4 separate regions of the Homo sapiens genome follow, and regions 1, 2 and 4 are each linked to region 3. Evidence: fine-mapped expression QTL. A gene starts in region 3. Each other region holds a variant in brackets. All regions are shown on one strand. Distances are between the middles of the regions.

Region 1 (8,103 bases), 36 kb after region 3:
GAAGCAGGCCTCAAATCTCCAAACAAGTGAATCCTCCCAAAACCTTTAGAAGTCAGGGATGGGCAGGTATAGCCACAGAGCAAGATGCCAGCATTTCTTTCCATGGATCTCTGTGGCTGTGTCCCTGTTGGACTCTGTGGCACACATTTATGGCTGAGTGGCCCATAGTGCGAGTCACTGAATTTTCTGCCTGATGTCCCTACATCACTGTCACCTCCCCCTGGGGTCCCCGCATCACCCTCACCTCCCCCTGAGTCCCCGCATTGCTCTCACTGGGGAGGGGTGGACCAGAGGCTTCACACACCACATGTCAGAATAGGGGTTTCCCTATTCTGGGTCCCCACATCACTCTCACCTCCCCCCGGGTCCCCGCATCACTCTCACCCCCACCTCTGGGTCCCCCATCATTCTCCTCACCCCCAGAGGTCCTGCAATCCTGCCATATGTTCTTCTATTTCCAGAGCTGGCCTGGAAGTAGAGTTGTGGCCACGCTCTGCTGTGCCTGGAACCTCTATTCTGACATGTGGTGTGTGAAGCCTTTGGTCCACCCTCCCTGGCCCCTGCAGGCTGAATGCCTGACAGAATCCACCCCCACTCCCACTGCTGCCCCCAAGTAGTCAGGACAGCAGGGGATGGGTGGGACAGGCCACACAGGAGCAGGAGCTGCATGGGGGCCGCCCTGCGTCTGGGGAGCAGCCCTCCTGCCCCCATGTGCTGAGGCCTCTTCTAGCTCGGGCTCTTTAGGCTGGAAGGTTTCGAGGGTCCTCACTGCATGGAGCTTCCCCACCGCACAAAGTCCTCAGCAAGGAGCGTGATGGCTCCGGAGCCCCAGATGTAAAGCTGAGTTGCCTCGGAGTAAGAGCTTCGGTCTCCGCCCTTGATTCATTCAGTGGGGGCAGAGTGGGGTGGGGGGCGGGGTCCACAGAAGCCTCAGAGCTGCCCCGGGAGGGAGGTGCCCCAAGACTTGGCCCAGAACTTCCCCCAAGATGGTCTCTGAAGGGTGACATCCTGGCCCTCCAGAGTGCCAAGATACTGAGGGCACGATGGCCTTCACGTGGCCTGGCCCTTCCCATCTCCATCAGGCCCTGAGGACATGGAGGGTGCCTTGCAGCTCTCAGGTTGCAAGACCACCGGGTCTGCTCACTGGGGACAAGCAAAGCTGTCGCCCACCCACACCTACGGCGTGCACAGACAACCTGTGGGGTACCTGTGCTTGTGCCCTAACCACCTGTACCCTGCTGAGAGGAGGGACTGGCGGGACGTCCCAGGGGCTGGGCCAGGGCTCTCCAGGTGTGGGGTTCTGGGGTGGGGGGGTTCCAAAGAGGAAGCAAGTGAGCCCATGCCCACAGCCCTCCCTGCTCCGGGAACCAGAAGGAGGCTCCGTACCATGTGGGGCCACCAGGCAGCATGGGCTGGAATGAGCCGGCTGATGAGGCTGGGGTGGTCCCCGACACACAGGAGGGGGCAGCTTCCCCTGCAGGGGCGTTTCAGAACTAGCCATGGAGTGGGAGCCCAGGGGGAGCAGTGATGGCTCCCAGGAAAGAGGGGCATCCCTGCCGTGGGCACCTCCTTCAGCCCCACGTCTCCACAGCTGGACTCGCGAACGGATCCCACGTGGCCATGCCCCTCTGCTGTCCCTCCTCGGAGGCCTCTTGGAGGTGACACTTTTGAAACAGGGTTCATGGAATGTTGTCCCGAGGCCAGGCCCAGGGATTACAATGTGGATGCCTGTCCACTGGTCCAGATGGGCGATGCCGTCATGACACAGGCCAGAGACAGAAGGGGCGGATTCTCCGTGAAATGTGGCCTCACGAAGCCAGAGGTGTCCTGGGACCTCCGTCCCTCAGCTCTGCTCTATCCCCACTGCCTGCCACCGGGCAATGCCAGGCGGTAAACCTGGCGGCTGCCCCTCTCAGGCCTTGTGTTCAGACCCCAGCTGGCCTCTCCTGGTGTAGTGCCCCAGCAAGTTCCTCCATGCCGTGCCTCCACTTCCTCAGCCGCTAGTGCCCTGGAGAGGGAGGGACATGGGCTGCACTTGGTACCTGAGAACCGGGTGGACACCAGCTCTTGTGACTGTTCGTCTTGGAGACTCACAGACGCAGCCGCCCTGGGCTGCTTCTCGCTCTCCCTCCTGTCGCCCCCTGTGCCTCCCCCTTGTCTCTCTCCCCGTCTCTTCTTCCCTCTCTTTCCCTTTCCACCCTTCCCTTCTTCCTCTCCCTGCTCACTCCTCGCTCTCCCCTGCCCTCTGTCTCCTCCCAGCTGCCCGCTCTGTAGGGTGCCTCCTACAGCTTCTCATCCACCTCCACTCTCCCTTGGTCTCCTTACCTGATGCCCTCAAGGAAAGCTTCTGCCTCCTAAGGACAATACGGCCGCACGGGGCAGTTCTAGGTGATGGCAACTGTTATAAAAATTGTTTAAAATAAAATTACAGGCTGGGTGCGGTGGCTCACGCCTGTAAACCCAGCACTTCGGGAGGCCGAGGCAGGTGGATCACCTCAGGTCAGGAGTTCGAGCCCAGTCTGGCCAACATGGTGAAACCCCGTCTCTATTAAAAATACAAAAATTAGCTGGGTGTGGTGGTGTGCACCTGTAATCCCAACTACTTGGGAGGCTGAGGCATGAGAATCGCTTGAACCCGGGAGGCGGAGGTTGCAGTGAGCCGAGATTACAGCACTGCACTCCATCCTGGGTGACAGAGCAAAACTCTATCTCAAATAAATAAATAAATAAATAAATAAATAAATAAATAAATAAATAACAATGCTCATTGTACAAAGTTTGGAAACTACAGAAAAAAATTCAAGAAAAAATTAAAAGCTCTTTGTAATCCCACCATTCAGAGAGAGCCACAGACAAGACCTTTGGCCGTGTCTCCCCCCTTTCCAGGCTTATTTAATAACTATGATGTAACCCTATTTACTAGGATGCCACTGCCAGGTGTTCCGAGCTGTGGCTGCACTGCGCCTGTACCACTGTTCTCCTCTCGTTAGTCTGTCGTAAGGGTAAGCAAACTTTCTCTATAAAGGGCCAGGTAGTCAACACTTTTGTCCTAGAGAGCCATATGGTCTCTGTCTAAACTACTCACCTCTGCCGTTGTAGCGTAAAAACAGCCAAAGGTGACACGTCAGCATGGCTCTGTGCCAATGAAACTTTATTTGCAAAGACAGGAAGTGCAAAAACAAAGATCAGATTCATCTAATCTTTGAAAAGGCAACATTGTCTTAACTAAAATAATTGAAATTTAAGTCAGTTAAACTGGACAAACACAGCTGTTAGGAGCGACTTCCATCTTTTCTGTAATCCTTACCTCTGTGCTTTCCCAGTGCATCTGAGTGCACGTTCCTCAGGGCCCTCGGCTCATCCTGGGTGTGCTGGCTTCTCAAGGCTGTCTCTGCGGTGTGTCCGGGGTCAGGTACAGATGGCATCCTGCCAGGCAGACCCTCATCCCTGCAAGGTGGACTCTTTAGAACTGATAACTTTTCATGAGAAAAATAATGAATCATGGAAATAGAGGCTTATAAGCCATCTATGTGGTGCCAAGTGGGTAGAGCAGGCCATTTGTGGGGAACCCAAAGTTTCTACGGCTGCTCATGTGAATGCCCGGCCACGAGGGGATCAAAGGACGGTGGGCCCCGGACACAGAGCCCCGAGGGCTCTCTCTGGCTGAGAATCCTGAGTGCTATGCTGGGAGCGCCGGGGAGGGAGGGTGTCTGGGGACAGTGTGTGGTCCTAAGCAGCAGCCCCTGGCACTGGGGAGTCTGTCCCTGATCCCCAGAGGGAGGACCCCCCATGGAGGGCTGTTTGTCCCACTGCACGCCTCTGGGGGACTGGGGTGCAGACCTGGGGCAAAACTGCAACTCCCAGATTGAGTGCAGGGAGGCAGCCGGGTCAGCGCGGGGGTTCCTGGGGCCCAGCAGCACAGAAGCATCCCTAAACGTGCATGGGGCTGGGGGGATGTGAGGAGGTGCACATGTGCCCTGTGTCCATGTAACAGGTACCACAGACCAGGGGCTTAAACAGCAGGATCGCCTTCCCAGGGTGCTGCAGTCTGCAAGTCTGAAATCAAGGTGTCGCTGGCCTCGATCCCCGAAGGCTCCAGGGGAGACTCCTTCCTGCCCCTCCCAGGTTCTGGTGGCCCAGGCATCCCTCCGTGTGCCTGCATGTGGCTGCATGGCCTGTCTCTGCCTCTGCCCTCACGTGGTCTCCTCCCTTTCCTGTGTCTGTCCACCTCTGCCTCACTCTCCTAAGGACACTTGTCACTGGGTTTAGGGCCCACGCAGCTCATCCAGGATACGTTCCCCCTTTCACATCCTCAACTAAAGCACTTCTGCTAAGATGTGGATGCATTTATTGGGGGCCATGGTTCAACACGACCATGGTGCCCGACCTCTCAGAGCAG[G/T]TGCCCTGGGAGCTGCCATTTCAGCAGAGAGGGGCACGGCTCTGCTGGAACAGAGTTGCAGCCGGAGGGTCTTCAGGTCTGGTTTTGCCTACAGAACACCCTCTGGAGCATCCCAGCACCACTCACACCTGACTTGTCAAGCTGGGAGTGCTGCGGGTGTTGCTTAGCCCCGTATCCAGTGCTGCTCTGGGAAAGAGCGTGGTGACTCAGCACCTTTGGCTGAAGGACAGAGTTAGGGCAGTGGGTGGGTGGGAATCGGTGAAAATGCGGTTCACTGGTCAATATTCAAAAAGGCTTCTTAATGAGGGTGTGCTGAAATAGGAAAGTGCCACTTTAGAGAGTGATGAATTCCAGGCCTTAGCTCCTTGCCTGGCTTCTGAGGATGTACACAGATTTTGGTGAAGAAATGGACTCCTGTTTGGAGATTTCAGAGGGAAAGCTTGGACTGCCACTAGGCAAGAAGAAAAGTAGAACAGATGGTCCACAAAGCCACATCCACAAAGATGAGAGTGTGGCTGCTGGTAAAAGACACTGGAAATGACGGCAGCTTAAATAAAACTGCACACAGCTTCTCCCATGCCAAAGGAAGCTGGAGGTGGACAGCCCAGGGCTACATGGGAGCTGCAGACTCCTCCGGTGTTGGGGCTCCTCCCATCCTTCCACCCCGCCTCATCCAGCGTCTTTCCTAAGTGTGCTTCACAGTCCTGGTGTGGCTGCTGAGGCTGCAGCCACCACCTCTGCATTCCAGGCAAGAGGTGGGAAAAGTGGGAGGAAGACAAAAAAGGCCCTTGTTGAAAGCCTCACCCCGGAGTGACTTCTTCCCTCTACTTGACCATTTTCTTGAGGATGGCACTGATTGGGCGTGGCCACCAGTCCCTGAGGAAGTGCTCATTGATCTGCAGCAGAATGAGGCAAGTAAGAAAAAATGAGTTGGTGTTTCTTCACATTAATTTTTGTTTTTCCAAGTGTTTTTGACATTAAAATGTCCTTTTTCTTTTGAAATGATAGAGAAAGTTGATTGTAATTACTTATTTTGCTTGAGGCCATTGTTTTTCAAAATAGTTTTATTTGAAAAAATAATCTGAGCATAGTTAAAAAGTCAGACACTACTAAAAGGTTCATAACAAAATCCAATCCAGCCCCTCATCCCAGCCACATGCCCTCGAGTCTTGCTCCCCAGCACCACTGTTTTCTGTTACTTATTTCTTCAGCGACTTGTCTCTATATTTCCAATAATATAATACCCTACTACTTATTGATGTCTTGTTTTTAGACCGTATCTATGGACTTCTTCCTGTGGTAGTTGAAGTTTAAGTCTCTTACACTCGACATCTTTTTTCTAGCACGACTCTCCCTGTTTCCTCATACGTCTATCACTAGTTTTGGCTAAATAACATTTATTTACTGCTAAGCTCAGTTATGCACTGTGATTCTTTGTCTTCTGTTATATAGCTTTTCATTTTTCCTGGAATTAATATTTGCATGATTGTTTTCCTTTTTTATTATCTGTCCACATAATTACTGATGCAATAACGATTCTAAGTGTCCACACATATTAAATTATCTGATAGCTTCCTAACCACCAGGAACACCGCCCCCTTCTTCTGGCAGCGCTGCCTTGGTGGGTCCCTGGAGTTCCCACTGTGGGAGTTTCCACTCTGTGCTGGCTCTCCTGTCAGGCTTGATTTAGTATCTTGTTTCATTATTTACTATCTTTTTTTTTTTTTTTTTGAGATGGAGTCTTGCTCTGTTGCCAGGCTGGAGTGCAGTGGCGCCATCTCAGCTCACTGCAACCTCCGCCCCCCGGGTTCAAGCAATTCTTCTGCCTCAGCCTCCCAAGTAGCTGGGATTACAGGCACACGCCGCCATGCCTGGCTAATTTTTTGTATTTTCAGTAGAGACGGGGTTTCACCATATTGGCCAGTCTGGTTGCAGAACTCCCGAGCTCAGGCAATCTGCCTGCCTCGGCCTCCTAAAGTGCTGGGATTACAGGTGTGAGCCAACAAGCCCGGCCTACCATCTCTTTCTTCTATGTTTTGCTAAAGCATGTCTCTCAGTAGCTGCCTACGAAACGGGGTATGGATGCCATTTTTTGTTTGTTTGTTTTTAAATCTTGGCTGTCTGAAAATAACTTTTTCAAGCTTGATGGAAAGTTTGGTGAGATACAGAAGTCCTGTTTGTCAATCGTCCCTCAGTATAGTTTTAAGTCTCCTTGAGGTATAATTCATATGCCACACAGTTTTCAGAGATCTGTTTGATGGGTTTTAATCAATTTATCACAATCCAGTTTTAAAACACTCGATTTTGCTCCCCTGAAAAACCTCTCCTGTTCCCCTCCCAATCCGCGCTCCACGCCCCTAGCTCCAGGCAGCCGCTGATCTGCCGCTGTGGTTTTCTGCCTCTATAACTTTTCCCTTTCTAGAGATTGTACATAGCTGGAGTCATTCAGTATGGCCTCTCACGGACCTGACTGTTCTCACTTAGCATCATGTTTTGAGGCTCATCCACACACGGCCTGAATCAGAGTTGCTTCCTTTTTACTGCGGGGCGGTGTTCCACGGGGCGGACGGGCTAAATGTTGTTTACTCATCCCCCAGTTGATGGACGTTCAGTTGGCTTCCCGTTCTGTCTGTCATGAATAACGCTGTGACGCGCACTTGTGTGCCGGTCTGCGTGTGGCCGCCTTTTCCTCGGCTTTCCCACCCGGAAGAGTGCTGAGGAGTGTGCACCTTCACTTCAGGAAGTCTCAACATTAACAAAGAAGAGCCAACGCTGGCCGAGGAGGCTTCAGAGCCTCCTGTTCCTCCTTGTGTCTTTTGAGTATTTTTTCATGGAAGTTTGGTGGGTTGACGTAGCTGACTTAAATTATCCAGAGTTGGTCCTCACCTGTGATCAGCCCCCAATGTTGGAATGAAGGCCACTGGAAGGCCAGACGCGGTGGCTCATGCCTGTAATCCCAGCACTTTGAGAGGCCAAGGCGGGTGGATCACGAGGTCAGGAGTTCAAGACCAGCCTTGCCAACATGGTGAAACCCCGTCTCTACTAAAAATACAAAAAATCAGCTGGACGTGGAGGTGCGAGCCTGTAATCCCAGCTCCTCGGGAGGCAGAGGCAGGAGAATCACTTGAGCCCGGGAGGCAGAGGTTGCGGTGAACCGAGATCGTGCCACTGCTCTGCAGCTGGAGCGACAGACTGAGACTATGTCTGAAAAAAAAAAAGAAAATAATCCATTGGAAAATGTGCTTAGATTTACACCTGTAGTTTTGAAGACCAGAGTTTGGAAGAATAAAAGTTGCTTAGGAAGTTTCTGACCTAGAGGGACTTTGGGCTCACGTGTCCTTCCATTAGCATACCTGGATCCTCAGCGCCAGGTGAGAAAACCCCTGTTACTTCCGTCTGAGCGAGTGCCCGGCCACGGCCCTCTGAGGGACTCACCGCTGCTGCTCAGGGACCCCTCCTCCCATTCTGGAAACCATCGGCAAAACCTCAGCAGACCACGGGGCCATTACTGTGGGCTCCGGTTTCCAGCCACTGCACTTCCAGACTTTTCTCTTCGGAGCCAGTGGGAATTTAGCAAATGACTGGATGGGGTCTGGGCAACCAGGCATCACGAGGCGCCTTCTCCTTCCACTCGGTGGAGCAGGGTCTCCAGTGAATGCGGCGTCCACGCCTGATCGGGGCTCCTGCCAGGGCGGCCATGCCTG
Region 2 (8,103 bases), 69 kb after region 3:
CACCATGCCCAGCTACAAAATGTGCTTACTTTAAAGCAGTTTCCTTCCTTTGCGATGGTATTTTTTGGGGTAAAGCCTGACCTGGATCATTAGTGACTGTAATTTGCAGCCCTCTACAGTCTCTCTTTTTTTTTTTTTTTCTTTTGAGACAGAGTCTCGCTCTGTCTCCCAGGCTGGAGTGCAGTGGTGTGATCTTGGCTCACTGCAAGCTCTGCCTCCCAGGTTCACACCATTCTCCTGCCTCAGGCTCCTGAGTAGCTGGGACTATAGGCAGCTGCCACCATGCCCTGCTAATTTTTTTTTTTTGGTAGGTTTTTAATAGAGATGGGGTTTCACCATGTTAGCCAGGATGGTCTCGATCTCCTGACCTTGTGATCTGCCCGCCTCGGCCTGCCAAAGTGCTGGGATTACAGGCGTGAGCCACCGCGCCTGGCCTCTACAGTCTCTTTAATTAGGATCCTAAATGTTTCTCCCGTGGTCTCATCTATTTTAACCTAAAACGCCCTTGGGGAAAACCTTTTGTCACTGCAACACTTCAGAACACACTTACAACAGGAGGTTTTTTCCCGAGGGCCTGCAGCAATCAAGGAGGGCCGTTCTGCTGGGTTTCCTGTTTTGAGCGGGATTTGTGTTCCGGGAGGCTGGGTGCTTCCTCAGAACTCTGTCTGCTTTTCCTCAGTAGGTTACAGACATTTCAGTCTACTAACCCCCAGAAGAAACAGCGTGCTGTTAGATTTAGTTATATTATCACAGGTCATTTTAAGATTTTCATTCATTTAATGTAAAAATCAGCCCAGAATTTTATTTTCCGTAAGGTGCTTAGGAGAGCGTGGGCATAGCCATGAGACCTCCGTGTTGGGTTGTGTTTAAAGATGTGTATTCATTTCTCATCCTCAGCTTTTGCCTCAAGAGTTTAGCCTCTGTCAGGATTAATCGGGGTCAGATTATCCTAACACGGAGTGTTTTCCATTCTTTCAGAAATTATTGCAACACCCTGCAGCGTTCAGACTTGTCATGGATGACTCTAACAGGGCAGGTGTTACCACGTCAACTGGTCCAAAAAACAAAATACCGGGTGCACATCCCTTGAAGTTTCGGGTGTGTTTACTCTGAGGCACCGTGCACTGCAAAGCTGGGGATTCACAGGCAAGTTTAGGTGAATCCTCGGAACACGTGACTGATGAATTCCGGGCCCGTGTCGGGCTCTCAGCCAGCGCCTGCTCCGTGCGCCAGGGACGGAGTGCTGCCTTCTCGGGAGTCACACGGGACTGGCTTAGCCCTGGCGAGTGTTTCGCATCAGGTGACAAGTTGTGCCGAGTGTCTGCCACCCTGCATGCCCACACTGAATCCGTGCAGGGCCCTCCCGGCCGCCTGCTCAGCTGTGGACACGGAGCTCCGGCACAGCCAAGTCCTGAATGACATGCAGCCAATTCTCTTGGGCCCTTTCCGGGTTTGTCTGTGGTCCTTCCTTCTGTGTTTCCAGGCTGAGTCCTAAGGCCCTGGTCCTGTGCCCAGTGTGGTGCCTTGGAAGTTCTGAAAGTCACAGGTGAGCTGGGTGCTCCTGGGTGTCCCACCCCGGCTAGGGCTGTCAGCATCATGAGTTCTGAAGAACTGCCCTGAGGGCTGCAGCATCCCTGCGGGGGCTCAGACCGGCTGGACCGTAGCGTAGTTTCTGGCCCCGGCTAGCTGGCGACCGTGGGCCTCAGTACCCTGTCTGCGGGGTGGGGCGATGCGAACCTACACCCTGGGATGGGGGTGCCCGCCCAGGGCAGTGCTGTCTGTGATCTTGCCATGCCCAGGGCACCCACTCCATGACGCTGGCTGTCGGTGCTTTCCAGGGGCACAGTGGAGTGTGTGAGGAAAGACCCCTGCAGACGGCCTCCGGCGGGCTTCGGGCAGCTCTCCCTGGTTGGGGTCCCAGGGTCTTCAGGGAAGCCCCAAGTCCTGGTCCTGTTCATCTTTGTGTCTCTAGTGGACAACATGTAAGAAATGCTACTTAAGCTGACCTGTTAGCATATGTAACATAATGCCGGGAAAAGAGCTGTGGCTGAATTGAATGATTTCTTAAATTGATTTTATATTGTGTGCCCTTTGAAAAATGTTTGGGGAGAATTGGAGTTAAAGTTTTCAACACAGTGTGGTCCTTGCAGACTTCCTGTGGGAGGGAATGACTTTCTGTTCCTCTGCGTTAGCATCCAAGTACACTCTTATGGCCTTTTCGATCCAATAATCACAATCTGGTCTTTGTCAGCTTTTTTTCAGGCAGTGACTTGGGTTTGTTCACACACTAGAAACTTAACTCACAAATCTTTAGGGTGCTAGGGGTTATGAGCGGGTTGGGAAGTGTCCCCACGTGGTTCACACCTGCCCTCTCCATGCTCACGGAACCACACGCTCGCTCCATCGTTTGTTGGGGGTTCCGTCAAGTGCCAGGTCCTCAGCGGGGCTCCAGGGGTGCAGAAAACGTGCAGGACAGCTCCAAGTTCACAGAGTCCCGGGGAGCTGATCGGCCACCAGGGCCTCTCGGTGTGGAGGGAAGAGGGACCGGCCAGCCCAGCTGGTCCTGAGAGTGCAGCTAGCAGCTGCTGACCAGCCCCCAGGGGGCTCCCGGGACACTCCCATGAGCGTGAGGATGATGAAGCTTCTCCCTCACCACATCCCAAGTCTCCAGGACACCAAGGGAGATGAGGGCATTTTAGGTTCTGCTCCCAGCCCATGCCACGACTTCTGGGCCCGAGGGCATCCTGTGCTGTTTTGTGTGAAGCGGCACAAAACATCCCACAACCACTGGGAGACGCCTCTGTCCTGGAACCGCTGCGGCCGCTCTCCCCACCCCTGCCAGGCGGCTCGCAAAGGGCAGCTCCTTCTTCCCGTCTGGGTCCGCACCACGCACCCGCCCTGGCCTCCTGCCCGGGGACATGCAGAGTCACCATGCGCTCTGAAACAGCCCCTCGGCAGCTTCACGACCTCACCAAGTGCCCGCCGCTCTCACGAGAGAGGTGGTTATGGTTGCGCATTGAATATGCTTGGGAGAGGCAAAGATGGATGGCGTAGTCTCTACCCTCACACCCAGTGCTGAGCGCGAGTCGTCCGCTGTGTGTGCATCATCTGCTGTGCGTGTGTCATCTGCTGTGCATGCCTGCGTCATCTGCTGTGTATGTGTCATCTGTTGTGCATGCGTGTGTCGTCTGCTGTGGGCGCGTGAGTCATCTGCTCTGTGTGCTTGTGCCGTCTGCTGTGCCTGCGTCATCGTCTGCTGTGCGTGTGTCATCTGTGCGTGTGTCATCTGCTGTGCGTGAGTCATCTGCTGTGCGTGTGTCATCTGTGCGTGTGTCATCTGCTGTGCGTGCGTGTGCCCTCTACTGTGGGTGTGTTCATCATCTGCTGTGCGTGCGTTGTCTGCTGTGCGTGCGCCGTCTGCTGTGCGTGCGCCGTCTGCTGTGCGTGCGTCGCCTGCTGTGCGAGTCGTCTGCTGTGCGTGCGTCGTCTGCTGTGCGTGAGTCGTCTGCTGTGCGTGCGCCGTCTGCTGTGCGTGCGCCGTCTGCTGTGCGTGCGCCGTCTGCTGTGCGTGCGCCGTCTGCTGTGCGTGAGTCGTCTGCTGTGCGTGTGCCGTCTGCTGTGCGTGAGTCGTCTGCTGTGCGTGTGTCGTTTGCTGTGCGTGTGCCGTCTGCTGTGCGTGTGTCATCTTCTGTGTGTGCGTGCCGTCTGCTGTGCATGTGTGCATTGTCCATTGTCTGCTGTGCATGCATCGTCTGCTCTGCGTGCGTGCGTCATCTGCTGTGCGTGTGTCATCTGCTGTGCGTGTGCCATCTGCTGCGGGTGCATCATCTGCTGTGCGTGCGTGTGCCATCTGTGCCTGTGTGCATCGTCTGCTGTGTGTGTGTTGTCTGCTGTGCATGCATGCGCCGTCTGCTGTGCGTGCATGTGTTGTCTGTTGTGCATGTGTCATCTGCTGTGCATGCATGCATTGTCTTCTATGGGCACAGGCGTCATCTGCTATGGGTGTGTGCGTCGTCTGCTGTGGGCCGTGCGTCGTCTGCTGTGCATGCTT[G/C]TGCTGTCTGCTGTGTGTGTGTGTGCATTGTCTGCTTACGTGCATCGTCTGCTATGCATTTGAGCACCCTTCCCTCCAAGGACTCCAGAACGTTCCACCTCCACCCATTCCTCATCTCCTGTGTGGCCTGTGAGACCAGGCGTGGCAGTCCCTGCTCCCAGCCCAGCACCCTTTGTCCCCTAGGGAGGCGTCCTCCATGGTCACCGTCTGTGTACCCATTGTGCGGGTTGTGCTGTCAGCACCTGTGCGGCGGGGGTGGGTGGCGTGGAAGTCCAAACCCACTGGGGGCTGTGCCATCCCTGTTTGATGTCAGCATGTGCTCCCTGTGTTCTATTAACCATGTAGCATTTTTTCTTTCTTTAAGCTGAAGAGGATGGAAATTAATTTTGCTTTCATAATTTCCTGACATGCTAGGAGGTGATTGGGGCCCTGGGGCATGTGGCTGGCGGGGGGTGCCTTGGTCCTGAGCAGGATGGAGGGTCCCTGGCTGAGGGGCGGGGCTGGAGGGGCCACCGTGCACCCCGGGTCTCGATGGTGTCCTGCAGAATGGGCTCTTCCTAGAAACTTCAAAAACAGTTAAGGAAACAGCCTAATCTTTCTGTTCCTCTTCTCATGGCCTTGGCGGTTACTGTTACACGAGCTCTGTGCTTGTCCTCCCCGTGTGGACTAAGGTCCTTAGAAATGTCAGGAATTGCAAATGAGTCCCAGCGAGCTTCCTCCTCTGCCCAACGCTGCCTCTCCTGATGGGGCCTGGCAGGCCGGGGTCCGCGGAGTGAGGAGTTTATCAGGATGACATAAAGAGGTGCAGTGGATGACCGCTGTATGAGGTTAAGCACAGGCAGGCGGTGCAGATCCCAGGAGTTTGTTTAGGAGAAGCGGAGCCTTGCCTCTGGTGCTTCCTGTGAACTACAATCTGAATGACAATCCGGCAGCCCAGAGCCTCCCCTGGATTCCAGGGAAGCCGGGAAAAGCTGCTTCCTGCGGGACTCATCTCAGGGTTCCCTGGAAGGAGACAAAGAGCAGACCTGAAATTTAGTCAGCCGCTTAAAACACTTGTTTTCGGGGTGTTCTAATGGCTCGGCCAGGCTCTGCCGCGCATCTGTGGATTCCAGGCTGCCCTGGTGTCTCAGTGCAGCTGGCTGGGAGGAGGCAGAGGTGAGACCCAGCAGAGCTCCCAGTGCTTCCCGGTAGCTTCTGACTGGGCTCTGTGCACAGACCTGATCCTTTCTGAAGCCATGGTGACCTGCGCCCATGATCACCATATACGGAGGCCCAGAGTGGAACACCACTGTGGAAATAGGGGCTTTCTGGTGACCGCCCTCCTCACTGTTTACTGTCTGATGAGCCTCACCCTGGCTTTCCGGTGCGCTGGGCCCTGCGCCTCTCTGCACACCTCTCCCTCACCCACCCACCCGGGCATCCCACACACAGCACCCAACCTGGGGTGGGAGAGGAGGAAAGCTCATGTCTCTCAGGCTCTCCCTTTTGGGGGTAAAACTAATATAGTTTCATCTCATTTTCAGTAAGGCAGGGATGTTTAGAGAATTCCAGTCTACTGTGTTAGGAAATTCTGGGGGAAAATTAGTAGACTCGGGGGAAATATTTAATTCATGAAAATGGGATTATAACATACTTTGGAAATCATTTGTTATCAAGACAGTCATATGGGTCTGTTCCAAGATGGCTGAATAGGAATAGCTCTGGTCTGCAGCTCCCAGCATGATCGATGCAGAAGACGGGTGATTTCTGCATTTACAACTGAGGTACCTGGTTCGTCTCACTGGGACTGGTTGGACAGTGGGTGCAGCCCACGGAGGGTGAGCTGAAGCAGGGTGGGGCATCGCCTCACCCAGGAAGCACAACAGGTCAGGGGATTTCCCTTTCCTAGGCAAGGGAAGCCATGACAGACTGTACCAGGAAAATCAGGACACTGCCACCCAAATACTGCACTTTTCCAGTGGTCTTAGCAAATGGCATATCAGGAGATTATATCCTGCACCTGGCTCAGTGGGTCCCATGCCCACAGAGCCTTGCTCGCTGCTAGCACAGCAGTCCAATATGGAACTGCGAGGTGGCAGCCTGGCTGGGGAAGGGGCATCTACCCTTGCTGAGGCTTGAGTAGGTAAACAAAGCGGCTAGGAAGCTCGAACTGGGTGGAGCCCACCACAGCTTAGCGAGGCCTGCCTGCCTCTGTAGACTCCACTGCTGGGGGCAAGGCATAGCTGAACAAAAGGCAGCAGAAACTTCTGAAGGCTTAAATGTGTCTGTCTGACAGCTCTGAAGAGAGCAGTGATTCTCCCAGCATGGTGTTTGAGCTCTGAGAATGGACAGACTGCCTCCTCAAGTGGATCCCTGACCCCCGTGTAGCCTAACTGGGAGACACCTCCCAGTAGGGGCTGACTGACACCTCATACAGGAGGGTGCCCCTCTGAGACAAAGCTTCCAGAGGAAGGATCAGGCAGCAATATTTGCTGTTCTGCAATACTTGCTGTTCTGCAGCCTTTGCTGCTGAAACCCAGGCAAACAGGGTCTGGAGTGGACCTCCAGCAAACTCCAACAGACCTGCAGCTGAGGGACCTGACTGTTAGAAGGAAAACTAACAAACAGAAAGGAATAGCATCAACATGAACAAAAAGGACATCCACACCAAAACCCCATCTATAGGTCACCATCATCAAAGACCAAAGGTAGATAAAACCACAAAGATGGGGAGAAACCAGAGCAGAAAAGCTGAACATTCTAAAAACCAGAGCACCTCTTCTCCTCCAAAGGATTGTAGCTCCTGGCCAGCAACAGAACAAAGCTGGGCAGAGAATGACTTTGACAAGTTGGCAGAAGTAGGCTTCAGAAGGTGGGTAATAACAAACTTCTCTGAGTTAAAGGAGGATGTTTGAACCCATCGCAAGGAAGCTAAAAACCTTGAAAAAACATTAGACAAATGGCTAACTAGAATAAATAGTGTAGAGAAGTCCTTAAATGACCCGATGGAGCTGAAAACCATGGCACGAGAACTACGTGATGCATGCACAAGCTTCAGTAGCTGATTCGATCAAGTGGAAGAAAGGGGATCAGTGATTGAAGATCAAGTGAATGAAATGAAGTGAGAAGAGAAGTTTAGAGAAAAAAGAGTAAAAGGAAATGAACAAAGACTCCAAGAAATATGGGACTATGTGAAAAGACCAAATCTATGTCTGATTGGTGTACCTGAAAGTGACGGGGAGAATGGAACCAAACTGGGAAACACTCTTCAGGATGTTATCCAGGAGAACTTCTCCAACCTAGCAAGCAAGGCCAACATTGAAATTCAGGAAATACAGAGAACACCACAAAGATACTCCTCGAGAAGAGCAACCCCAAGACACATAATTGTCAGATTCACCAAGGTTGAAATGAGAGAAAAAATGTTAAGGGCAGCCAGAGAGAAAGGTCGGGTTATCCACAAAGGGAAGCCCATCAGACTAACAGCGGATCTCTCGGCAGAAACTCTACAAGCCAGAAGAGAATGGGGGCCAATATTCAACATTCTTAAAGAAAAGAATTTTCAACCCAGAATTTCATATCCTGACAAACTAAGTTTCAAAAGTGAAAGAGAAAAAAAATCCTTTACAGACAAGCAAATGCTGAGAGATTTTGTCACCACCAGGCCTGCCTTACAAGAGCTGAAGGAAGCACTAAACATGGAAAGAAACAACCAGTACCAGCCACTGCAAAAACATGCCAAATTGTAAAGACCATCGATGCTAGGAAGAAATTGCATCTTCCTAGGAATAGGATTATGTATCATGTATTATTTTCCATCTGGCTTCTTTAACTCAAAATGATACGAATGAAATTCACCCTTGCTTCTGTGCAGCTCCTTCCTCATGACTGTTGTGGAGGTGTTGCCTTGCACAAATGCTTCCTACTGCTGATGGACATTTGACTTGTTTCCAGGGTGGGGATACTGTGAACACTCCACCCAGGAGCATTCTCACACATGTCCTCTGGTAAACACATGCATGAACCTCTGTGGGGTGTGCACTGAGATGGGGAGCTGTGGGGTCATTTGGTGC
Region 3 (8,087 bases):
CCACGGGCTCTGCGGGAGAGAATGCGTGGCCAGTGGAGGGAGAGGGTTGGTAGGTGAATCAGACCCCCTGTCCCCGTCCACCATTATGAGGCCTGTTCCCGACGCTACGAAAAGCACTCGGGGCCTCTCTTCGCGTCTCCCATTTCCTCCAGAGGCCACCAGGTCACAAACTGGCAACACAGGGGCCTCCAATGGGGGAGGGGGGTGTCTAATTTTTTTTTTTTTTGAGACGGAGTCTCGCTCTGTCGCCCAGGCTGGAGTGCAGTGGCGCGATCTCAGCTCACTGCAAACTCCGCCTCCAGGGTTCAGGGCATTCTCCTGCCTCAGCCTCCCGAGTAGCTGGGACTACAGGCGCCCGCCACCACGCCCGGCTAATTTTTTGTATTTTTAGTAGAAACGAGGTTTCACCGTGTTAGCCAGGATGGTCTCAATCTCCTGACCTCGTGATCCGCCCGCCTCTGCCTTCCAAAGCGCTGGGATTACAGGCGTGAGCCACCGCGCCCGGCCTACTATTTTTATACGTGATTTGAGTTCCTTTAAATGCTCAGGGGTCACCACCACAGTCCCCACATTGGTAGCCTGAGGCAGAACCGGTTTGCACGGTGACCGCCTAGGCATGGGGCTCGGCGTTTGGGACCCCCAAGACGTCCTAGAACCGCAGAGAAGGCACTGTGCCTGCACTCCAGGGCCTCAGCCCCCAGTGACAACCTCCCAACCCACCTGCGTTCTTGGAGCTCTTGAGGGGCTCCTCCCGCGCCTCCTCCTCGCCCCCCTCCTCCTCCTCGCCCTCCGCGTAGGGCCGCTTCTCGTCTGCGCACTTGTTCCGCGGCGGCCACGTCATCTTGTTCTCCTTCTTGAGGCGCCGGCGCGCGTTGGCGAACCAGGTGGAGACCTGTGTGAGGGTCATCTTGGTGATGATGGCCAGCATGATCTTCTCGCCCTTGGTGGGGTAGGGGTTCTTGCGGTGCTCCTGCAGCCAGGCCTTGAGCGTGCTGGTGGTCTCGCGCGTGGCGTTCTTGCGCCGCGTGCCGCTGTCCATGGTTCCATACCTGGAGACAGGCTCTGCAATGGGCTCAGGCTGGGCCCTCTGGGCCCCAGGCATCATGGGCATAGGGGTGGGGGTCGGCCAGGGGCATGCCAGGATGGGCTTTGCTTCCCCGTCGTGGGGTTGTGGTCATGGTCATAAGGCCCAGGTAGGACCCGAGCCCCAACCAGGTGCCGCTGCCTGCTGGCACTTGTCTTCTGTGGCCAAAGGGCAAAGATTATATTTGACTAAACTTACAGGGAGCCTGGGCTCCTTCCCAAGCCAGAGAGGTCCAGGCCAATTCCTTTATGGGGATGACCGCCTAGCCGTTTGATCCTCAAACCATAAAAAGGTATAGACAGGTAAGCCCACACCCTGAGATGTAACACGTGTGGCAGGAAGGGTCATTACTGCCCAGGAGGAGAAAGCACCCAAGGGGCCTAAGTGTACCGTCTTTGGATAAATTTGTAGTGGTTGCATTGAGGAAAGTGGGGCATCCTGTCCAAAAGTGGGACAGGAGAGAAAGGAGGGCCACCAGGGGTTCCCCACTGTTCCCACTGTAGGGGCAGTGTGGACACTCGGAAGGAGGTGCCCAGAGTCTGCAGAGCGGGCTGCCCCGTGAACTGGGCCTTCCAGATTCGACTTCCCTGAAAGCTGCCGCACATTTAGGACTTCTGGGGCCCAACAACGTGGGGGACGGGGAGACTGGGGAGCATTTTAACCATGGCTGTGCAGGAGCAGGTGGGACAGGAGGCTGGACCCCACAGACCACAGACTCAGGTCATGCCTGACCTAAGAGTGTCTCTCTTCCTGCCTCCCGCCTTCCAGAAAGGGGGCATGATGGTGGAGGGGAGTTGGTGGCTGACAGTGCAGAGGGCCCGTGGGGCTAGTGCTGGTTAGGAGGGGTGGGTCCTCACCTGTCATAGGGGTACTGGCCCAGAGCTGGCTCGTAAGGGTAGTAGGCGGCAGCGGCTGGTGCCAGGCCCCCATGCGCAGATCCCGAACCATCCTTGGAATCAAAGCTGTTCTGTGGGAGCCAAGAGTCTGGGGTCGCAGTTTCCAGGGAGGCAACCCCACTCCAGCCTCTCTCCTAGGAGCCCCCCACTCCCAAAGGCTTGGCAAGGATTCCTGGGCAGCCCTACGCCCCGGCAGGAAGGAGCTGATTTCCCGCTTGCTTTAAAACCTGGTCTCGCAAACCTGAAGTGGGGATGTTCTGAGTTGCAGAAGCAGTGTGTGGTGGAGCGCGGGCCGGTGGGGGGGGGCGGGGGGGAGGAGGTGCAGTGTGGGGAGCGGGGATGTGGAGTAGGAGGAAGTTGGAGGGAAGCCAGAAAGAACTGGGGGCCGGCAATAGGGGGCAGCTGGGAGAAGGAGTGGGGATTGTTAGGGCTGGGGATGCCCTGGGATGCACTCAAGTGGGGAGGAAAAAGGGGTGGAGAAAGGGGAGGGGCTGCTGAGCGAGGGGATGGAAGCCAGGAGGGGAGAAGGGAGGAGAGAAATGGGGAGGCGCAAGGCGGGGGGAGGAGCAAGGGTGGGGGAGGAGCAAGGAGGGGGAGGAACAAGGAGGGGGCGAAAGCAGGGGAGAGGGAGGAAGAGGGAGATAGGAAGGATGAGTCAGAGAGGGGCTGGGAGGACAGGAAGAGGGAGGCCAGGAGCCTGAAGGAGGCGGGGAGAGGAGAATGGGGTCAGGGAATGAGGGAGGGAAATCTACCAGGAGGGAAGAAGCGGGAAACACACGCAGACCGAATCTGCCAGCTGATGAGGATTTAGTAGGGAACCAAAAACAAGAAACGCAGTGGCCACCTGCCGGGTCATCTGTCCCAGGGGGTGGGGGTGGGGTTCTGAGGGTCTCGGCTGGGAGGCGCAAAGTTGAAGGCAGCCAAGGTGAGCGCCTCCCCTCTGTGACAGTCCGGGGACCCGGACTGGCGCGCCTACTGGGGCAAAAGTGGGCTTGGCAAATCGAGGGCCAGGGGCAGGGCAAGGGCTAGGGATGCCCCACTTACCAGCGAGTAGAAGGCGGACGCCTCCGAGCCGTAGGTCACGTAGTTGCCATAGCCCTGCGATCCGCCATAGGGACCCCCATAGACGCCCAGCGCCGCGGCCGAGTTGAGCTCGTGGCGCGCGGTGGCCAGCAGCCGGCTCTCGTAGACCGGGCAGTAGACCGGCGCCTGGGCCGAGGCGGCGGGCCCGGAGTCCGCCAGCGTGCGGCCTCCGGACTCGCAGCACGTGCTCAGGGAGTTGGTGGCCATCAAGAACTGCAGAGAGAGGCCGCGAGGACTGGCGGGAAGCCGGGCTGGAGGCTGGGGCCCTGGGCCTTGCCAATCCCGCGCGCCGCCCACGAGGGCGTGCCCCGAGTACCCCCGGGCCTCCCGCCGTCCACACCAGGATGCTCGCCCCTTTCCACTAGCTTGTGCGCGTCTGGCCTCCTCCGCCACGTGGGGCCCAGCCGAGCACCTACACCCTTCCCCGGAGGGTTTCCAAGGCCTCTGACGCCATTTGCGCGCCAAGCCTCCTTCCCCAGGGGTTCCTTGGGGTCCTAGGACTCCCCTGGGGCACAGCCTGAGCCTTGTGGTTCAAACATCAGGGAACCCGGGCCCGGCCCGTCGGATTTTCTTAGCGCCTCGGCCTTTCCCCGGGGGTTTGGGGAGCAGGGGTTGGGCGTGAGGGGCGCGCGACCCAGGCCTTGCTAGCTCGGAAGCCGCAGGCAGTCGTAGGTCGGACACTCCCCACCCCCCGTCCCCGCCCCATCCGCCCTACCGGCACCTGCGGTGGCCTGGGCGGGGCGGGGCTCCGCTTACCTGGGGAGCCGAGGAGTAGGGGTATCCAAACTGCGGGTAGGACATGGCGGGCGCGGCCCGGGGCGGACGGGCGGGGCCTGCAGGGTTCTGCGCGCTGGGGCCGGCGTGGCGCGGCCACTGCTCCGGAGCTGCAGGCTTCTAGGCGCTGGGAGGGCGAAGCAGGAGAGCCGGTTAGTCCATCCCCGCGCTCCGCAAACTTTTCTAACCGGGTAACAAAGTGAGCAGCGGTGGCCGCCGCGATTCCTTTAACTTCGCATTCCGGAGGCTCGAGGGGGCTCTGGGACCGAGCGGCCTCGCAGCGGCGACAGAAATACATATTTTACGAAAAAGAAAAAAAAAAAAACGAGTCGCGCGAACCCGTCAAGTCAGATGTGCGCGGCTTGAAGCGGAGGAGGCTCTGACGTCAGCCCCACCTCGCGCAGCCCGGCCTGGCCGCAGACTCGCCGGTCACTCGCCGGCGGCTCAGGCCGGGAGGGGCCAGGACAGTCCCGGCCGCGCGGTGGACGGAGGGGCCATTCCTCCGGGCGTTAGCAAATAAATTCCATCCGAGTCAATATCGCCCAGCGAACGGTGTTTCTCTTTAGTCACCCGAGAACGAGAGGCACTTTTAATTAGAAATTAATTAATGAGCAGCTGCTCCTTCCCGCCCCACTGTAATCATTCGTCTCAATTACAAATGAGACCTATGAAAGGACACGCTGAAGATGTAATCAACAGTTAAAATTAGCCCGGCGCTGCGCAGGCGGCCGGCCCGGCCTCGCGCTGGCGCGCTCTGCTCCGAGTGGCAGGAAGGGGCTCGCAGGCGCCCCGCACGCGTCTCGTCACTATTGTTTAATCGAGAATCAGCAACGCCTCCCGCCGGTTTCCACCCTACGCCGGAATGGACTTTCAGAACCCACTGCGGCCGCAAGACAGCCCGCAAGAGCTGGTCAAAATGCCCTCAGGTGCGTGGGGGCTTCGGGGCCTTAGTTGGAGCCCGACACCCTGAGACTGGCGGCCCGAGGGCTGTAGGGCCGCCCCGGGCGTGCGCCCACCGGCTTTGCACCTCTGGGCAGCCGAGTGTCGCGGAGAACGCCCCATCTTCTCCACCGCGGTCTTTTAAGTTCCCGCTCAGCCCACCGCCCCCACCTCGCCTCCCCGACTTTCCTCCCCGATCCCCTTTCCGCCGGCCGTGCTCCGCCGGCTTCCCCCTGCCCCTCGCGGCTAAGCCGGGGACTGCCGGGCGGCCCTGCGCGCTCGGAAGAGCAGGTTCCTCAACCCAGGCCCCGGCCCCTCCCGCTAAGCTCGTCCCTCCCGGCGCCCCGCAGGGCTGGCTGCGAGGGAGGGGGCGTTGGGTGCCTGGCGGAGGCGCCCTCCCCTGTCCATTTTGCCCAGCTTTCTGTCTGGGGCGCACGGAGCAATCGGAAGAGGGGACCGAGCGCCCACCCCAGGACTCCCTCGGCCAGTACCCTCCCTGGGACCTTGCCCAAGTTCAAAGCGGAGGCCAGTGAGCAGGCGGCAAGGGGGCGGCAAGGGGGCGCCCGGGCCATCCCGAACCCGTTCCCCGCCTTCTGCGCCATCGCCCTCCGGGACCGGGACTCGCCCCGGTTGCCCTCGCCCCCTGGGCCGGCCTCCCGTGGTAAGTTGGGAAGGAAGCCGTGCAAGGCAGCGTTGTGCAGACTTGCTCAGAAAGATTCCTGGGTTCAGACCTGTGAATCGCCCCAGGGTCACCCTCTAATTAATGATGACGTCCTCGCCCTCTCCCCAGCTGCAAGCCTGCCTCCCAGAAACGAAATCTGCCTGCTCTTTTGACAGCTCGGTTGAAGGTGATTGATGACTATCTGGAGACCACAGTACACATCATATAATATCTGCTGCGTAATTGCTTTAATTTACAGATGAAAATACGAGTTCTCCGATCGCGTTGGACCGGAGCGGGCCACGTCCGAGCTGCTTGCAGAGGGAAACCATCGGAAATAATGAATAGCCGCTCCATGCAAATTATTCAGACAGTTTAGCGTCGGTAGCCGCGAGAAATATATAAAGAACACGAGTCAAATGACATTAATAATTGTTTCTGAATTCTGTATTGATTTCGCGGCAGGCCGCGTTTCTTTCTTTCTCACCTGAATCGCTAATATCACCTTCCTGTAAATAATAAGAAACTAGCCACCGGGGTTTCTCGCTAGAAATGAATCTCTCAACCCCTTTCCCTCTCCTCCTGCTCCTCCCCTCCCCCACCCTCCTTCCTCCCCTCTCCCACCCTCCCTCCTCCCCACTCCTTGCAGTTTTCTGGTTTTTCCCGAGCATCCTTCTACTTCCCATTATTTATTGTTTACAAACTACTCGCTCTCTCCAGGTAATGAGGCCCGGCTGAAGGAGGGGTGTGAGCCCAGCCGGGCCAAGGGCTGGGATGGGGAGTAGAGACCCCCAGAGGGGAGGCATTCAGCTGTGGCTTGTCCTTTCCTCACCTATACTCGGGGACCTGGCCTCGGCGACTGTGAGCACTCCGCCGGCTGAGGGGGAGAGCCAGGGCCCAGGGGCCCAGCCACCTATGCCCTGCACCTCTGGGCTCTAGTGCAACAGCTCAGCCCACCCAGACCTGAGGCTGGTGCATTTCCTTCCTTCCAGACCCGGCGGGGCTTAACTGGAGCCGAAGCCCCAGAACAGGCGGCCATTCATCTTCTGAGCAGAGTCTGGGAGAAGCAGCCTCCACTTCCCAGGGCAGCCAGTACGTGGGGGCCCTTTCGGGGGCTTCCTTTGACCACCACCGCCACCTTCTCCTGTTCTCTTTTGCCTTTCCAGCCTGTGTGCATAAATCGACGCTCCAGTCCCCACCAGCGGGCGACCCTTTCTCCGTGACCCAGAAACCTGGCCTCTGAATCGGCTTTCCCAGGCCGCCGCACACACACGCTCCACTTCCTGCCCGCCAGCAGGCCCCAGCGCCTGGGGTCCGGGCCCAGTCACAGTCACCCTGCCTCGGGAAGCTCGCAACTGCCCAGGAGGCCTCCTGACCCGCCCGGCCTCACCCAGGCCCCACTACTCATTCCAGGACACAGGGTCAATCCAGCCTGTGGATTGGCGACCACCGGGACATCTCACTGAAACCCTGTAGCCTGGCCTAGGCCCGCCTGCCCAAACCGGGGATTCTCACTGGGCCACCCTTCTCCCATAGATAATACTGGAATATTTTCCAAGTGCCTTCACCAAAAGGCCAAGCCTGGAGCGGAGGCACCCAGTGTCCCTTTCACCAACGATAGGACGCTCAGCATCTCAGGTATCAGCTGAACGCGTCTGCATAGACTCGGAGTGCTGAGCCTTCCTCCCTCTAGGGACCCCCGGTACTAAATACACCCGTGAGCAGGTGGGCCAGAAGTCAGCCGGCTCCCGGAGTACACAGCACCGGCTCAGCTTCGGGGAGATGAGGTGCTCCCGCTGGCCTGGAGCGCTCCGAAGAGCGGAGGACCAGGGCCGGAGCAGGCCGCAGGGGAGGCAGGGGATGGTCAGCCCCTAACGCGAAGCGCAGGCGGGTCGCCTATTTTGACGGGGTTACCGTTGGCCGTCGGAACCATGGAAGGCCTCCGGGGAGACAGGCCGGGCCCTGACCCTTCTTCGGCCAGCCTAGCCCTGGTGCTTCAGGAGTTACCCTGGGGGCCACCAGTTCCCCGCACCAAGAGCTCGTCCGGAGGGAGCTCCTTCCAGCCCAGAGAAGTTAACTCCAGCCAAAGGCGAAGCCGGGAGCCCGGGGCACCAGGCAAGGGCCTTTCTTTCTGAGACCTGGGGCCAGAGACCTTGGGGGCGCCTGTGCCCGCCCACCGCTCGGGACACCCGGCTGGGGTGTGGGTTTGAGAGGCCTCACGGTCGCTGACGCCGCACTGGCGAACCTCGAGGTTGGCAGGTCATTTCCTCACAGCCCCGAGGCCCCCTCGGAGCCAGTGGTAGGAGAAGGAGCCACAGGGACAAGCGGTGAATCTCTGGATTCCCAACCGCCCTCCATGGGGGCCCGCGGCCCTCTCCCTCCTCTCTCCCGCTGCGCCCCCGCCGCTTGCTCCCTGGGTACGGCCTGAGGCTGGACGGAGCGCCGTCCGGGCGTCCAGGACTCAGGCCTGGCCACTCCGAGCCCCCCACCCCCCGCCCCGCGCCGGCCCGCGCACCCTGCTTCCCGCAACTTGCAGCAAACGCAGCGGCCTCTGGAGAGCCTAGCGACGGGTAGCAAACTTTGTCCCCTTAAGCGCAAGAGCAATCCTCGCAAAGTTTGTGCGGCGGAGCCCACTCCCTACCTGAGCTGG
Region 4 (8,103 bases), 210 kb after region 3:
CTCAACATTCCAAACCATTTTTTTACCAAAACCAATTTCAATTGCTAATTTAAAAAATGTTTTAGAGAACTATGAATAAGAGAACTTTTCCTCAATATGATAAAGGGCATCTAACAAAAAAATTGAGGATTAAAAAACCCCAAACGCAAAAATATAATTAACATCTTTAATGGTGAAACATTAAATTCTTTTCTCCCAAGACAAGGATGTTTTATTTGTCACTTGTACTTGACATTGTACTGGACATTATAACTAATGTAGTAAATAAAAAAAGTCAATCAATCAATGAAACCCCAAATGACACAAAAAGAAATAAAAACAGATGTAAGGCATCCAGATTGTAAGTGAACAGGTAAAACTGTTTTTCTTCTCAGATGACATAGTAATCATCTGTAAAAGAACACTTATGGAATGTACACAAAAGTTACAAAAACTCATGAGTTTAGCAGACTGCTTAATACAATGTAAATATACAAGTAGCAATCTTTTTTATCCTTGCAATGAATTATTTTAAATTAAAATTAAAAATGACTATTTACAATAGCATCAGATCAAAATGTGCAAGTCCTGTGTACTAAAATCCATAAAGCATCACCAAGAGAAATTAAGGAACATCTAAACAAATGGAGAGATATATCATGTTCTTGGGATTAAAAATTCAGTATTGTTTTAATTTCTTCCCAAATTTACATATTCAATGTTATCTCAATGAGTACTAGCAAGCTTTTATTTTTGTAGAAATTGATGAACTTATTCTAAAATTAATTTGAAATTGCAAAGGGCTTTTAATTGTGGAAACAACTTTGAAAGCAGAGAATAAAGCTGAAGGATGAACACTAGTTTAAGACTTAAAACTACAATAATCAAGAAAGTGTGATATTGGCATCAAGCTAGACAACTAGATAAATGGAATGGAATAGAGAGTCCAGAAAATGACAACAGCCTATAGAGATAACTGATTTCTAAAAGGAATGCAAAGGCATTTTAGCAGAGAAAAGGCAGCCTTTTAAAGAAATGGCGCTACAACAATTAAATAGCCACATGCAAAGAATATACTTTGATCCATACATCTCACAGAAATAGATTATTGCCTTATATGTAAAGGCTAAAACCATAACATTTTTGGAAGGAATTAGGAGAAATTCTTCGTGACCTTGAGTTAGGCAACGATTTCTTAAATATGACAAGAAAGGCATGGTCTATAAAAGCAAATATGATAAATATGACTTCATAAAAATTAAAACACTTACTCTTTGAAAAACACAGCTAGTATAATGAAAAGACAAGCCATTGGCTGGAAGAAAATATTTGCTTCTCTTATACAGCAAAGGACTTTTAACCAGATTAGCTAGATAACTGTTAAAACTCTATAAAATGAAAAGAGACAGTGATTAAAAATGATCTATTGGTTTGAATGGACACTTCACCATAGAAAATGTGTGAATGGAAAATAAGTCCATGATAAGATGATCAATACCGTTAGCTCTTAGAGAAATGCAAGTTAAAACCTCAATGAGACATGATTGCACAGTTATTAGATGGCTAAGATTAAAAAGACTAATGACGCCAGGTGCTGGTGAGGCTGTATAGGAACTGGAATGCTCACATGTCACTGGTTAAAATATTAAATGTTACAACCGCTTTGGAAAAGTTTTATATTTTTTTTAGTTTTGTATTTTCCATTTTTATTTAAAATCTCCTAATATTATTTTTTGAGCCTATTAATGGTATAGGGGTTTATTGCAAAATTATATAAACATTTTCAAACAAAAGGTAAGTAAGTATGGATTATACAATAAATGACAAAACACTACTGTGTAATACTTAATATGTGGGTGTTAGACAAAGTGTTAGACTTCATAGAATTTCTAAGGCAGCTTTGTTCTGCCTGCCTTTTCTACACACATTTCACACATATTTAACATGAGTTTTCCTTTTTCCCACTGACCTTCTCACCTGGCAGCTTGCTTCTGAGTCTTTCACACAAGCCACACACAGCTGCTTGGTTGAGCACTTAAGTGGCCATCAGGCAGCAGTGTCCCTAGATGTTCCTGCTCCAAAGCACGTTTTTAAAGTGAGTAGCTGCATTCTGTCCTTGAAAGAAAAGTGTGAATAACATCACATCAGAAAGGACTGGAGAAGGAGAAGCAAATCTTAGCGGGTGTTAAATGGCTTCCAGTGTTCCTGGCAGACTGAGATGAGACCGCAGCAGAAACCAGAGGCACGAAGCCCACCTCAGCCTATTGTGAAGAATCTTTTAATATAATACTCTATACTTGTTGGTCAAAATCTTGTATTGGGTACTTTTGTTGAATTTTCAATTATATTATCTTTTGTTTCCTGTAAACTAGGTCAAATTTTCCTGAAGGTCTGATATAGTATATTTCCTTTTTAAATCATATATAATGTGTAATAATATTTTAATACATGAAACAGTCAAATGAAGACAGTTTTTACTATTTAATACATGAGACAATCAGTCAAAGGAAGACTTTTTTACTATTGATCTAAATGCTTGATCATACTGTAATTAAAAAGTGAAATAGCTGAATTTATTGATCTAAGAGCATTTATGGATCTTCAAAAGTATTCACTACGTTAGTAATAGATGCAAATAATGGATATTATGGCACAATGACTAGTCTAAGAGAGGCGACGTGTTGTCATTAATTTTTTTTCATTCAAATCTATTTATTTTTATTTTTAAAATTGTAGTAAAAATCACACAACATAAAATTTACCATCGAACCTATTTTAATTGCATAGTTCGGTGACATTAAGTGTATTCACAGTTATGAATATACTGCAAATAGTTTTTTTTTCAAAAGTTAAACACATAACTACCATCTGACATGGCAATTCCATCCCTATGTACTTCCCAGGAGAAATGAAAACATGTGTGTTTATAAAGACTTGAACACAAATGTCCATGGAAGCTTTACCTGTAATTGCTAACAACCAGAAATGACCCAAATGTTAATCAACAAGTGAATGGATAAAAACTAATACATCCATTCAGGGGAGTAATACTTAGTGATATAAAGGTTAAAAAAAACCCGTTGAGACATACAACATGGACAAATCTCAAAATAATTATGCTGAGCCAAAAAGCCAGACAAAGAATAATACATAATTATGATCTTATTTTATAAAATTACAGAGAATGCAAATGAATCTCTAGAGACAGAGGTTAATCAGTGATTGCCTAGGGAGGGTGGGGGAGAGGGGAGGAGTAAGAAGGAACAATTTCAAAACATTATCACAAAGCAAATTCCCAAGGAGATGGATAATATCCTGATTTTGATAGATTCAGTGTTTTCTATGGGTTTTTACATCTTTAAAAATCTATCCAATTTTATATTTTAAATGTGTATAATGTATATATCAATTGTATAATTCTTATATAAATTCAGCCTCAATAAGGCTGTTAAAAAATAGAAGCAACGTGAAGACTGTCTCAGACATACAAAAGTAGAGAGACGCCACTGTCAGCAGCCGGCACCACCAGGCACTAAAGGACATTTTAGAGTTGGTTTCCAGACAGAGGGAAATGATAAGAAATAAAAATGAGGGTCTACACAAAGGAACAGGAGTGGGTGTAAAATGCATCAGCAAATACAAAGCGTGTTTTACCGTATTTTGAAATCTCTTTATTGAACATTGTTTTAAACAGTAATAATAATACATTTGGGGTTTATAAGTAGAAGCAAAATGTCTGCTAACAATAGCACAAGGGCTGGGAGGTGGGAAATGGAACCAGGCAGTTGTAAGATTATTAAATTACATGGGAAGTGATGCCATATTATTTGTTATTCTTGGGTATTCTTGATAAGTTAATGCTGTGTATTGTCAACTCCAGAGCAACCATTTATAAAAACAAACATGATTCATACACCACTTACAAAGCTAACAAAAATGTAATATAAACCCATGCACACTGTGTTCCAGCAGAACTTCAAAACAATTCTTAAATGATGACTTGGTGGGAATTAGTTACTAGAATTTTCCTTCATGGCCTTGCAGACCGAGGACTTCCGCCAGCTTTCGCATGGGAGAGCGTCCTGGCACGGGGTGTCTTTGACGTGGGCAGACTGAGGACTTCAGCCAGCTTTCAAATGGGAGAGCGTCCTGGCACGGGGTGTCGTTGACGTGGGCAGACCGAGGACTTCAGCCAGCTTTCACATGGGAGAGCGTCCTGGCACGGGGCGT[C/T]GTTGATGTGGGCCATGAGTTTGCACCTTTTCAGATGGTGGGAAGCCACTCACAAGTGACAGAGGGTGTCACATGATACACAAAACCGAAAGGAAGCCCTAATCCCGGCAGGAAAGGTCTGTGTGAGGATTCACCAAGAGTGGACGTCCAGGAGTGTGTGACGCCGGAGCCGGTGTGCCCCACGCATGTGTAGGTGCTCACAGGCACACGCCTGCACGGAGGGCTGTCTGTCCAGGCCACTGCTGTGTGGTGGCCTCACTGCTGCCTTCCTTAATGGCTGATAACACTAAACTCTTTGATGTATCCAATTCCCTGCTTTATTTTAACTCAGATTATTCCTTACTGTGCCTTTGGCCATCAAATATTGACTGCATGATAACATTGTACTTTGTTTCTGTTGTCAGTGCATGACGTTTTCCACTCTCTAGGGAGTTCCACTGCCAAGAGAACACAACTCATCACCAGAGGAGACAGGATCGGGGAGGAGGCGGCCAGGCCAGCCCTGGCCCCGGCCACAGGAACACTGGCGTCCCCTGGCTGGGAAAGGACAAGGTGTGCTCCAGTTCTGGCCACGTCTGTCTGGTTTCCCCATCAGAGGTGGTGGCTTGTGAACTAGGAGCGCTCGAGTCCCAGCGCCGTGGCCCAGTCACCAGACGGTGGGTGGGGAGCCGGGCTGGGCCCTCGCCCTGGCCACAGTGCAGCCCGCTCCACTAGCTGGGACCCGGCTTCCTGCAAAACCAAAGCTCAAGGCTGGGCAGGGCAGCCAGCTGTGTCCCAACTCACCCCAAGTTTCTGCACTTCATGTCCGAGCAGATGGGCTTTCAGAGGGGACGCTGCCCTAGGGTTTCACAGCCACTTATGCTGAGTGATGCCCAAACCTGTAACTCCCAGTCACTGATCCTAGGATCCTTGAACCACAGGATGCTGACCTCATTTCCCCACCCATTGGTGGATGCGTTCATCAGAGTCTTCCAGAAACCGCGGTGGGGGGATCGCCCAGGATCGCACTCAGGAATCCCGCCGAGGGAGCTCTGTGAATGCAATTTAGGCGACCGCACTTTCTAATGTTTGAAATATTGCGTCTAAGGAGACATTTCTCTAAATGTCACAGGAGACACATGCATGTTTAAGAAATGTACATGAAAGAACATACTTGAGTATATGCCAAGTATGATGACCTAGCTATGATAATTTTCAAAAATGTAGCAATCGTATTGTCAGAAACTATTATTTTAGAGGTTAGAATGTTGACCACCCATTTGTTTTTAAATTATTATTATACTTTAAGTTTTAGGGTACATGTGCACAATGTGCAGGTTTGTTACATATGTATACATGTGCCATGTTGGTGTGCTGCACCCACTAACTCGTCATCTAGCATTACGTATATCTCCTAATGCTATCCCTCCCCCCTCCCCCCACCCCACAACAGTCCCCGGAGTGTGATGTTCCCCTTCCTGTGTCCATGTGTTCTCATTGTTCAATTCCCACCTATGAGTGAGAACATGTGGTGTTTGATTTTCTGTCCTTACGATAGTTTGCTGAGAATGGTGGTTTCCAGCTTCATCCATGTCCCTACAAAGGACATGAACTCATCCTTTTTTATGGCTGCATAGTATTCCATGGTGTATATGTGCCACATTTTCTTAATCCAGTCTATCGTTGTTGGACATTTAGGTTGGTTCCAAGTCTTTGCTATTGTGAATAGTGCCACAATAAACATACGTGTGCATGTGTCTTTATAGCAGCATGATTTATAGTCCTTTGGGTATATACCCAGTAATGGGATGGCTGGGTCAAATGGTATTTCTAGTTCTAGATCCCTGAGGAATCACCACACTGACTTCCACAATGGTTGAACTAGTTTACATGGCACCCAACTACTACTCGACATTCGTAACCTTTTATTCATTAGAAATGACCAACGGGAACTTTAAATTACATGACAGCAGTTTCCTTCTTAGAAAGAGGAAGGTAAAACTCAGAGAAACCTATCAAGCCTGAATAAAGGAGTAAACACAAAAATGAAGCAGTTCCAACTCTTCTATGGGGCTCCCTACCTGTGGTCCTTCATCCTCATAATATTATTTTCTGAATGGCCTCTGACAGCCACGATTTCCCCAAATGATCAATGTCGTCAAACTATTCAGCATGGCAGATCAGGAAAATTGTCAGATTTATTTTAGAAAGAATTTTAAAGGACAGGTGGACTCTAAAGGGATGTTGTGCTTAGCTAGATATTCAAAAATGCAATTAACGAACACATTCCTTCTCCAGATACACCGAGTTTTCCTGTGTGTTCAGGTGTTTGTTCCGAGGGTGCGTTAGTGGACGAATTCCTCCACCTGTGCATCTGGAGACCTGGGGATGTCTATGCTCTTTGCCCCCTGCCAGGTAAAAGAGTAAACTTCTAATAATCAGCTCAGATTCCCTTTTGTTGGGTTAGGAGATGAAAATACGTTGTACTGGATTCTCTTTGAAATCTAAAATGTCCGTTGGTTTTGGAGTTTTCTAACAGAACCGCCCTTCAGGTAAACATCCAAAACCTTCCTGTGACCCCGTGCAGAAGCGCCTCCCACAGCCCCCAGAGGAGAGAGGTAACCTCGGCAGATGCTGAGACCAGGGAGCCACCTCTCTTGGGCTGTGCTGGAAGCATCTCTGAGCTCTGCTCAGGTGGGAGTTACTGACACGCATATCCGTGCGAGGGCTGGCGTTTCCTTCTTTCATCAAACTGCCCATCCCCTCTGCAGCCAGTGCAGGAGTCGCGGAGTGCCGCCTTGGCTCTGGCCGCCTGAAGGCCTGCCGTGCTGGAGAGCGGGTCCAGGGGTTGACATCTCTATTCTTTTGTCTGACAAATCTGTGCACTGGCTTGTAAAAAAAATCAATACTGTTTTTCCTTGGTTCTCTCTCCACAGGTGAGCTGGTGGATCGTAGCGGCTCTCCCCGTTCCCGCCTCCAATTCTGTTCTCAGTTTGTTTCTCTTGCTTCAGGGTTGAGCATGTGATCATATCTCCAGCGGACGACACCAAAAGAATGTCTGTGACCTCGTCCCCTGGCGACCACGTCTACAGTGACTGAGTGCTGCCGTGGCTGGAAAGCCAGGGTCTGCATCTCCCAGGACCTCAGGACCTGTGATGAGGTGTTGTGGGGCCAAGAAGAGGAGGGGGTCCATGGTGGGCTCTGCCGCAGGTGACCCTGCGCACTGTCCTAGCACCTGTGCCTAAGGAGATGCCCTCTATGGTACCAAGCATCTCCCAAAATGTGATTTGCTCTTCCTGTGATAGAATGGAGTGGGCTGAGGGGGCGATGGGTGCTGGAAAGCCACAAGGCTGCCATTGATCTGCCAGAGAAGGCACCTGCTCACCTGGCAGGATGCTCACCTGGCAGGATGTTCACCTGGCAGGATGCTCACCTGGCAGGAATAGCAAATTTGCTAGAAAAATGCAGGTTCCCCTGTTCTGGGTGATCTGTGACTTCTGCCACACAGGGGATCCAGAGTGCGAGGATATCCAGAGAGCTGGAATGAGGATTTTGCTGAGCTGAGGTGGGTTGCTTTCCTCTCCTTCCCTCATGAAATCACAAAACCCATGCTCATCTCCCAGATGACCTAAGGGTGGCAGTTCCTAGAGGCAGGCGATAAATGAGGCACAGTGACCTCACGTCCAGCCTAGTTTCCTGTGTTCATTCCTGAAGGGACCTGAGTGTGGGAACAGAGTGCTCTCCTCTCTCTCTTTCTCTCTCATTCTCTCATTCCTTCTTTCTCTTTCTCTCTCTCTTTCCCTTTCTCTCTCTCTCCTCTTATTCTCCCTCTTTCTCTCTCTCTTCCCCCAGCCCCCACGTTTGTCCTTCTCCTTCCTTGCAGTCTTGCTCTTTTTCATCCATATTCCCTTTTAC

Which allele goes with the higher level. Positions count from the first base shown, and alleles are read on the strand shown. Sizes are in standard deviations (SD) of each study's normalised expression. Not every link is listed here.
For the expression in pancreatic islets of the gene that starts at base 4,142 in region 3, C is the low allele of the variant in region 2 and G is the other (large effect, 0.85 SD a copy in PISA).

The links. PIP is the estimated chance that this variant, and not a neighbour inherited with it, causes the effect. A credible set is the group of variants that fine-mapping cannot tell apart.
Region 1: its variant is the best candidate, but not a certain one, in a credible set for the expression of IRX4 in esophagus mucosa (GTEx, PIP 0.59).
Region 2: its variant is the best candidate, but not a certain one, in a credible set for the expression of IRX4 in pancreatic islets (PISA, PIP 0.62).
Region 4: its variant is the best candidate, but not a certain one, in a credible set for the expression of IRX4 in skeletal muscle (GTEx, PIP 0.51).

What each region holds. Positions count from the first base shown.
Region 1 is chr5:1,914,880-1,922,982 of GRCh38, forward strand. No RefSeq gene overlaps it. Among named protein-coding and RNA genes, the nearest start is that of CTD-2194D22.4, 32 kb to the left of the region's middle. RefSeq lists an enhancer at 4,090-4,903. The variant G/T (reference allele first, on the strand shown) is at 4,400.
Region 2 is chr5:1,947,716-1,955,818 of GRCh38, forward strand. The region is part of intron 3 of LOC124901165 (keratin-associated protein 5-5-like); the gene reads left to right. All of the region lies in intron 2 of LOC105374618 (a long non-coding RNA gene), which reads left to right. Among named protein-coding and RNA genes, the nearest start is that of CTD-2194D22.4, 64 kb to the left of the region's middle. RefSeq lists enhancers at 1,018-1,519, 2,503-3,702 and a silencer at 4,900-5,194. The variant G/C (reference allele first, on the strand shown) is at 4,052.
Region 3 is chr5:1,878,784-1,886,870 of GRCh38, forward strand. It overlaps IRX4 (iroquois homeobox 4), which reads right to left and starts at 4,142. Exons shown (of 5, transcript NM_016358.3): 1 at 3,820-4,142; 2 at 3,025-3,276; 3 at 1,942-2,051; 4 at 721-1,049; 5 at 1-9. The coding sequence starts at 3,864. IRX4-AS1 (IRX4 antisense RNA 1) reads left to right here and starts at 4,550. Exons shown (of 2, transcript NR_183257.1): 1 at 4,550-4,763; 2 at 5,697-5,866. RefSeq lists enhancers at 5,006-5,858, 6,408-6,941.
Region 4 is chr5:2,090,040-2,098,142 of GRCh38, forward strand. LOC105374618 (a long non-coding RNA gene) reads left to right here. Exons shown (of 13, transcript NR_171679.1): 8 at 6,487-6,603; 9 at 7,200-7,753. Among named protein-coding and RNA genes, the nearest start is that of CTD-2194D22.4, 210 kb to the left of the region's middle. The variant C/T (reference allele first, on the strand shown) is at 4,210.